2 separate regions of the Homo sapiens genome follow, and region 1 is linked to region 2. The links come from fine-mapping of genetic effects on gene expression. A gene starts in region 2. The other region holds a variant in brackets. All regions are shown on one strand. Distances are from middle to middle. Region 1 has its middle 6.3 kb from the start of PHYHIP. Region 2 holds the start of BMP1 (bone morphogenetic protein 1).

What was found. PIP is the estimated chance that this variant, and not a neighbour inherited with it, causes the effect. A credible set is the group of variants that fine-mapping cannot tell apart.
Region 1: its variant is the best candidate, but not a certain one, in a credible set for the expression of BMP1 in monocytes after LPS (Fairfax 2014, PIP 0.67).

Annotation. Positions count from the first base shown.
Region 1 is chr8:22,236,255-22,240,636 of GRCh38, forward strand. No RefSeq gene overlaps it. Among named protein-coding and RNA genes, the nearest start is that of PHYHIP, 6.3 kb to the left of the region's middle. RefSeq lists a silencer at 1,082-1,376. The variant TA/T (reference allele first, on the strand shown) is at 1,842.
Region 2 is chr8:22,163,062-22,167,443 of GRCh38, forward strand. BMP1 (bone morphogenetic protein 1) reads left to right here and starts at 2,311. Exons shown (of 20, transcript NM_006129.5): 1 at 2,311-2,492. The coding sequence starts at 2,345. It overlaps SFTPC (surfactant protein C), which reads left to right. Exons shown (of 6, transcript NM_001317778.2): 3 at 19-141; 4 at 375-485; 5 at 840-998; 6 at 1,205-1,418. The coding sequence ends at 980. RefSeq lists a silencer at 1,567-2,606.

The DNA.
Region 1 (4,382 bases), 73 kb after region 2:
ATCAAGAACAATGATGAAAGAGAATCGTAAGTAGAAGGACTCATATAGAACCTCAGTACTGGAATAGTCAGTAAGTTATACCCAAAGTGGAAGAACATGATGTAGGAAATACGGAACACCACTGCGCACTGCTTGGCAAGGTACCAGGACAAGGCCAGGCGCGGTAGCTCACGCCTGTAATCTCAGGACTTAGGGAGGTTGAGGCAGCCGAATCGTCTGAGGTAGGAGTTCGAGACCAGCCTGGCCAGCATGGCAAAACCCTGTGTCTACTAAAAATACAAAAAGTAGCCAGGCGTGGTGGCGCACGCCTGTAGTCACAGCTACTCAGGAGGCTGAGGCAGGAGAATCACTTGATCCCGGGAGGTGGAGGTTGCAGTGAGCCAAGATCGTGTCCCTGAACTCTAGCCTTAGCAACAGAGCAAGACTGCCAAAAAGAAAAAAAAGAAAAAGAAAAAGAAAGAAATACCAGAAGAGTGTGACATATTGAATACAAGCGATCACCATGATGAAGCGCCTTCCCTCCATGCACCCAAAATTTGCCACACTGACTCTATTAAGAGTCACTGACAGAAGAACCTATAGAGAAGACATGAAAATACAACTCACAGATGGCTTTGACATCAATGGTGCCAAAATTCAATTACCTTCTGGAAACAATCTACTCATTTTTCTAATGCACATCCAGATTTTCTAGTTGATCTCATCACAAATTGGAATTCAATCATCCATTTAAAAAAATTCACTGAGTGCTTATCTATGTATCAGGCACTGTTTCAGGCAATGAGGATCCTGCAGTTGTAGGCAGGGAAAGGAGAACAAACAAACAAACAAAAAATCCCTGCTCTCATAGGGCTTACATTCTGGTGGGGGAAGACAGATAATTAAATAGGTAAGTGAATAAATAAACAAACTTTATAGTCTGTTGGGTGGTGATAAATGCTCTAGAGAAAAATAAGTCGGTAAGTAGAGATAGGAAACATCATGGAGAAGTCGGGAGTTATGATTTTAAATAGGGCCATCAGAGGAGGACTTTTTGAAAAGGTGACTTTGGTACACAACAAAACAAAACAAAACAAAACAAAAAACACCTGATTAAAGGATGGACGGGAGCCATGCAGAATTTTGTGGAGGAAGGGCATTCCAGGTAACAGGTGCAGGGGCCCTGAAGCAGGATGTTGCCTGATATAGTCCAGAAACAGCAGGGGGAGCCAGTGTGCAAGGAGTTGAGACTAGAGAAATGGTGCAGGGAGAGATTGTGCAGGGCCGTGGCGCAGGGCGTTCTAAGGCCTCTGATTTTGACTCTGAAATGGGAAGCCATTGGGAAGTTTAGAGCAGAGATGTGACCTAACGTGAAACATGTCAGTTGCACTATGTGGAGACTAGACTTGGAGGATTCAGGTGGAAGGAGGCCAATTAGGAGTCAATTATAATAATCAGCAATAAATGATGGTGGCCTGGACCAAGGTGGTGAGAAGTGGGAAGATCCCGGATGTATGTCAAAAAGCTGATATGTTAGAAGTAGTGCATGGGAGAGAGGAGTCAAGAGTCGCAAGGCTGGGTGCAGTGGCTCAAGCCTGTAATCTCAGCACTTTGGGAGGCTGAGGTGGGCAGATCACTTGAGACTCAGGAGCTCAAGACTAGCCTGGGCAACATGGTGAAACTCCAACTCTACAAAAAATAAAAAAAATTAGCCAGGCATGGTGCGGCATGCCTATAGTCCCAGCTACCTGAGAGGCTGAGGTGGGAGGATCACTTGAGCCCGGGAGGTTGAGGCTGCAGTGAGCCGAGATCATGCCACTGCACTCCAGCCTGGGTGACAGAATAAGAAAGATCCTGTCTCA[TA/T]AAAAAAAAAAAAAAAACCTGCAAGATTTTTAATCTGAACAACTAGTAGGATGCAGTTACCATTTACTGAGATGGGGACCACTTTGGAGAAGTAGTTTGAGGAGCAAGATCAAAAAAGTGTGGATATGGCCAGGTGCAGTGGCTCACACCAGTAATCCCAAAACTTTAGGAGGTCGAGGCAGATGGATCACTTGAGGTCAGGAGTTCGAGACCAGCCTGGCCAACACGGTGAAACCCGGTCTCTACTAAAAATACAAAAATTAGCTGGGCGTGGTGGCAGGTGCCTGTAATCCCAGCTACTCAGGAGGCAGAGGCAGGAGAATTGCTTGAACCTGGGAGGCGGAGGTTGCAGTGAGCGGAAATCACGTCACTGCACTCCAGCCTGAGCGACAGGGCAAGACCCTGTCTCAAAAAAAAAAAAAAAAAGTTTGGATGGGCACATAGGTTTCGAGATGCCCAGCAGACATCCAGCTGGAGGTGTGGAATAGGCAGAGACACATCAGGAATTCAGGGAGCACTGGACTGGAGGTGAGCCCTTAGGAGTGATCAGCATACAGTATACTTGAAGCTGAGAAACTGAACCATTGTCATGGGAGTTAGTATAGAGAAAATAGGAAAGAATTCCAAGGACAGAATTCTTTTTTTTTTTTTCTGAGATGGAGTCTTGCTCTTGTTGCCCAGGCTGGAGTGCAATGGCACAATCTTGGCTCACTGCAACCTCTGCCTCCCTGGTTCAAGCGATTCCCTGCCTCAGCCTCACAAGTAGCTGGGACTGTAAGTGCACACGACCACACACGGCTAATTTTTTGTATTTTACTAGAGATGGGGTTTCAACCTGTTGGCCAGGATGGTCTCGAGCTCCTGACCTCGTGATCCGCCCACCTCGGCCTCCCAAAGTGCTGGAATTACAGGCCTGAGCCACCGTGCCTGGCCCCAAGGACAGAATTCTGGAGTTCTCTAACATGTAAGGGTCAAGGCGATAAGGAGGAACCAGCAAATGAATGGCCTGCAAAATGATGCAAATAAACAAGGACAAATTACACAGAGAACATGTAATAGCTTGAACTTGGATAGCGTTCTCATACCTCACATTCCTTTTACTCTACCAATACATATGCAAAACAGTTTCTTATTCATTTTCAATGCCCATGAAGAATTCACAGGAGGCCGGGCGCCATGGCTCATGCCTGTAGTTCCAACACTTTGGGATGCCCGAAGGGGGCAGATCGCTTGAACCCAGGAGTTTGAGACCAGCTTGAGCAACATAGTGAGATTCCATCTCTACAAAATAATTAAAAATTAGTTGGGTATGGTGGTGCACACCTGTAGTCCCAGCTACACTGGAGGCTGAGGCACGAGGATCCCTTGAGCCCAGGAGTTGCAGGCTGCAGTGAGCTATGATTGTAGCTGTGAATAGCCACTGTACTCCAGCCTGGACAACAGAGCAAGACTCTGTTTCAGGAAAAAAAAAAAAAAGGCCGGACGTGGTGGCTCATGCCTGTAATCCCCGCACTTTGGGAGGCTGAGGCGGGTGGATCGCCTGTGGTCAGGAGTTCAAGATTAGCCTGGCCAACGTGGTGAAACCCCATCTCTACTAAAAATACAAAAATTAGCCAGGCATAGTGGCGCGCACCTCTAATCCCAGCTACTCAGGAGGCTGAGGCAGGAGAATCGCTTGAACCCGGGAGGCAGAGGTTGCAGTGAGTGGAGATCGTGCCATTGCACTACAGCCTGGGCAACAGAGCAAGACTCTGTCTCAAAAAAAAAAAAAAAAATTCACAAGAACAGATTTTTGACAGAATCTGTTATACCTTCTAAAACCTGCATTTAGACCCAGAAAACTGTATTTGTCCTCAAGAGTTTGATTATTAAGTTACAATGAGATTATTGTCTTTATTATGATATTTATGAAAATAAAATGTTATTAATAACAAACTAAGCTCAGTTGGGCACAGTGGCTCACGCCTGTAATCCCAGCACTTTGGGAGTTTGAGGCGGGCAGATCGATTGAGCCCAGGAGTTCAAGACCAGCCTGGGAAACATGGCAAAACCCTGACTCTACCAAAAGTAGAAAAATTAGCCAGTCTCAAAACCTGGTCTCAAAATAAATGGATAGATAAAAATATTAAAAGAACCTGTGTAAAATATCCCAATTTAAAAAAATCTAAATGCATTGAAAAATGACTTCAAGTATGTAAAACATTTGGGCCGGGCGCGGTGGCTCGCGCCTGTAATCCCAGCACTTTGGGAGGCCGAGGCGGGCGGATCACGAGGTCAGGAGATCGAGACCATCCTGGCTAACACGGTGAAACCCCGTCTCTACTAAAAATGCAAAAAATTAGCCGGGCGTGGTGGCGGGTGCCTGTAGTCCCAGCTGCTCGGGAGGCTGAGGCAGGAGAATGGCGTGAACCCGGGAGGCGGAGCTTGCAGTGAGCCGAGATCGTGCCACTGCACTCCAGCCTGGGCGACAGAGCGAGACTCCGTCTCAAAAAAAAAAAAAACAAAAACAAAAAACAAAAACAAAAACATTTGATGGGATA
Region 2 (4,382 bases):
TCCATGCCCTTTCCCCAGGTTCTGGAGATGAGCATTGGGGCGCCGGAAGCCCAGCAACGCCTGGCCCTGAGTGAGCACCTGGTTACCACTGCCACCTTCTCCATCGGCTCCACTGGCCTCGTGGTGTATGACTACCAGCAGGTGGGTATGCCCAGACCTCCTGACCCTGGGACCAATGACAAGGCTCTGCTAGAGCCACCCAGCTGGGCCACTTCATCCACATCCATCTCTCCCTCTCCTCCAGACCTTTTTTGCCTGAGCCCCAGATTCTAGTATGACTCCCGTGCCCAACCTAGAGGGAGGTGGCTAAGGACCTGGGTCAGGGAGAGAGCAGGGCAGGGACCCCCGAATGATCTCCAGCATTCTGTGCCTAGCTGCTGATCGCCTACAAGCCAGCCCCTGGCACCTGCTGCTACATCATGAAGATAGCTCCAGAGAGCATCCCCAGTCTTGAGGCTCTCACTAGAAAAGTCCACAACTTCCAGGTGTGTGTGTGTGGGTGAAAAGAGTGGGCTGTCTCCCTCCCAGGGCTGCTGGGAGGAGTGTCCGAATGGTGGCTATTTGTCACCTGTAAAGCACTGTTCCTCATTGGCTGCCAGCTGACTGCCCCTCTCCTATTCCCCTGCACGACTCCTTTCCTTCCCACCCCACTGCCAAGCTGCTGGGCTCAGCTGAGTCCACTCACTACCTGGTGGCTTCTGACTCTAGCACAGCCCCTCTTTACTGATGAGAAAACTGAGGCTCAGAGAGATTGCCTGATATACCTGAAGTCCCACAATAAGGGCTGCACATGGGATAGAAACTCACTTCCTACATTCCAGATGGAATGCTCTCTGCAGGCCAAGCCCGCAGTGCCTACGTCTAAGCTGGGCCAGGCAGAGGGGCGAGATGCAGGCTCAGCACCCTCCGGAGGGGACCCGGCCTTCCTGGGCATGGCCGTGAGCACCCTGTGTGGCGAGGTGCCGCTCTACTACATCTAGGACGCCTCCGGTGAGCAGGTGTGATCCCAGGGCCCCTGATCAGCAGCGGAGGAGCGCTCGGGCCACCTGCCCGGGCTGTGGAGGAGCGCTCGCGCTGACCAGGCGCTGGGGCGTCCACTGAAGCGGGGTCATCCAGGCAACTCGGGGGAGGGGAAGCTCACAGACCGGTACTTCCCACTCCCCTGATTCTCTCTGTCCATCCTCAACATTCCTTTGCTTCACAGGGTCAGTGGAAGCCCCAACGGGAAAGGAAACGCCCCGGGCAAAGGGTCTTTTGCAGCTTTTGCAGACGGGCAAGAAGCTGCTTCTGCCCACACCGCAGGGACAAGCCCTGGAGAAATGGGAGCTTGGGGAGAGGATGGGAGTGGGCAGAGGTGGCGCCCAGGGGCCCGGGAACTCCTGCCACAACAGAATAAAGCAGCCTGATTGAAAAGCAAAGGGTCTGCTTCTGTCTTCCTGCAGGGCGCAGTCCTGCCCTGGCGGGGGCCGGCCAAGAAGGGAAGGGCCTTGGGAGAGCAAAGTGGGGTTTGCCATTCGCCCTCTGTCCCAGGGCGCTGGGGCACTGGGTCCACCTCGGCGGGGGAGAGGGGCTCGCAGGGAGCCATCCACGGGCTTTCGGCGCCCTCCAGCGGCGTCTCCGGAGGAGGGAGAGACACCAAGACAGCGAGAGAGACAGAGCGCAGAGAGCGAGACGCGAGAGAGCGAGGGTCCAAGAAGGGGAGATAGGGAGACGCGGGCGGAGAGACCGACCCGAGGCGGGGGCGCGGGGCAGGGGCGGCGCGAGGACCTGACAGCGTGTCCCGCGGCGGGGCGGGGGCTCGGCCGCGCGCCCGCGGGGGAGGCCGCCGCTAGAGGGCACTTCAGGAGGGACAGCCCTCCCGGCACCCCGGGGCCCGAGCTCCAGCCCCGGCCTCGCGGCCCGCGGCCCGCGGCCCGGGCGGCCCGAGCCCCCTCCCCGGGCGCGCGGCTCTCCGCCTTCCCCGCCCCGGCTGGCGCGCGGCCCGGCCCGGCCGAGCACTGTCCCGGCCCCGAGGGGGGCAGAGCTCGGGCGAAAACCCGCCCTCCAGCGAGCTCATTTCCCTAAAAAGGGGGGGGGGAGTCGGAGGGAGGGAGGGAGGGAGAGAAAGAAAGAGAGAAAAAGAAGGAAAGGGAGAGGGAGACGGCTGGAGCCCGAGGACGAGCGCGGAGCCGCGGACCGAGCGGGGGGCGGGAGACAGGAAGGAGGGAGGCGAGCAGAGGGAAGGGGAAGAGGTCGGGGAGCGAGGGCGGGAGCGGTCGCGGTCGCGATCGAGCAAGCAAGCGGGCGAGAGGACGCCCTCCCCTGGCCTCCAGTGCGCCGCTTCCCTCGCCGCCGCCCCGCCAGCATGCCCGGCGTGGCCCGCCTGCCGCTGCTGCTCGGGCTGCTGCTGCTCCCGCGTCCCGGCCGGCCGCTGGACTTGGCCGACTACACCTATGACCTGGCGGAGGAGGACGACTCGGAGCCCCTCAACTACAAAGACCCCTGCAAGGCGGGTGAGCGCCCCCCGGCCCCCCGGCGACGGGCCAGGCGGGGAGGCGCGGGCGGGTTCGGGCTTGGGGTTGGGGGAGGACAGTCCAGTGTGGGAAGCCGGGAGCTGCCTGGTTGGCAATGCAGTGGGGAACAAAAGAACGAGGGGGAGAGGGAGGGGGATTTGGGGGACTTTTCGGACTGAAGTTTTGCCGCTGTTGGTGGAAGCTGCTGCCGCTGCCTCTCATCTTCCCAGAGGATTCCAGAGGAAGTCTCCTTGCGTCCCGGGAAAACCGGCGGGCAAGGCGGCTTTTCCTTCTGTAGGAAACTTTTCTGGCCAAACTCCTGTGCGTGCGTGTGTGTGTGTGTGTGTGTGTGTGTGTGTGTGTGTGTGTGTGTTCTTTCCCCTTCTCCCCCATCTCTCCTGCTCCAGGAGCTGGGTGTTTTCCAGCCTGTCTGGGCTGCCCTGGGGCTGCACATCTGTCTGGCTTGGATCTGGGAGGCCTGAGTCTCCAAGGAGCAGGTCCCCCAGCCACCACCCAGCCCAAGTGGAAGAAGAAAGTTTTTCCAGGGATTCCCTGAGATCGTGCTCTCTGGGTATCCCGTAGTTTAACCAGTAGCTGAAGCTTTCTGGGACTTAGGAGACAGCTGTCAAAGTCAGAGAAGCCAACCCAGAAGGGGGACTTAACTTTGTCCCTATGTGCCCAGAGACCCCCGCCAAGGCCAAGTTGGGGTGGAAAGAGGGAAAATACAAAGAGAACCCAGATATTGTATATCAGCTCTGTCACCCCCGAGACACCAGAGGCTAATTAGCTGAGGTCAGGACCCCGGAGTGTGTGTTTGCCTGTATGTGTGTGTGTTCTTTGTCTCTGAAGACTCTATGTAACCCCATCACTCCTGCTGAGCCCAGAAGGGTCCTGCCCCTGGAGTGACCAGATGGCCAGGCACTCGGGCCATTTGCCTGATTGGATGACCCTGGGCAGGCTGTTTGGGGACACACAGGGACAAGATATCAGAACTTTTCCTTGACTTCCTGCCTCTCTGACTTCAGCTCATCTCCAAATAGCCAGAGCCAGGGGAAGTGGCATAGTTGCTAGAACTGGACTGCCTGTGTGGGGCACCAGGGGCGGAGGGGCAGGTTGCTCTAGTCCTGGCTCTGGAGACCCTGTTCAGGGACTCTCCTGGGAGGGTGGCCCACAGGCAGGAATAAGAGACCATCCAATGGAGGAAATCAGGGCAAATCCCTCAGCCCTTACCCCTCTACACCTGCTGGGCTGCGGGTAAACCAGGACATTTGCTGTCATTTTTCTCGCTGGGGGCTGGGAGTGGGTACAGGGCAGAGTGGACTGCGCATGGACTTTGAAGGCAGGCACATCTAGCTTTCAATCCTGACCCTGCTACTCATTATAGCTGTACCACCTCAGAATGGTAATGATCATGTCTGAACTGCCACTTTCACACCTGTAAAATGGAACTGATCATGCATCTTCCCATAGAGTTGGTGGTAAGGGTTAAATATGAAAACATACATAAAACACTTAATAGTGCTTAACACACAGTCAGCGCTAAATAAATGTGGGCTCCCTACTCCCTGTTTTCTGTGCCTCAGACTGTCACTTCATTTTTTTGAGAGGTGTGGGATTGCTGGTGTCTCCTTGTGCCTCTTATCCATCAATCCATCAATACCTAATATGTGCTAGGGCCTGGAATGGATGTTGTGGGAGGTACTGAGACGTACAAGCTAGGACCCTGCCTTCAAGGAGCTTACAGTCCAGTAGGGACCCAAGACACCTACAGACATAACCAATAGCACAAACCAAGCCACACTGAGTGCCACATTGGAGGGTAGGATGCCAAAGACTCAGGGAGTTTCCTGCCCCTCTGCAGCCTGGTGGTGGCAGAGAAAAGTGATCACA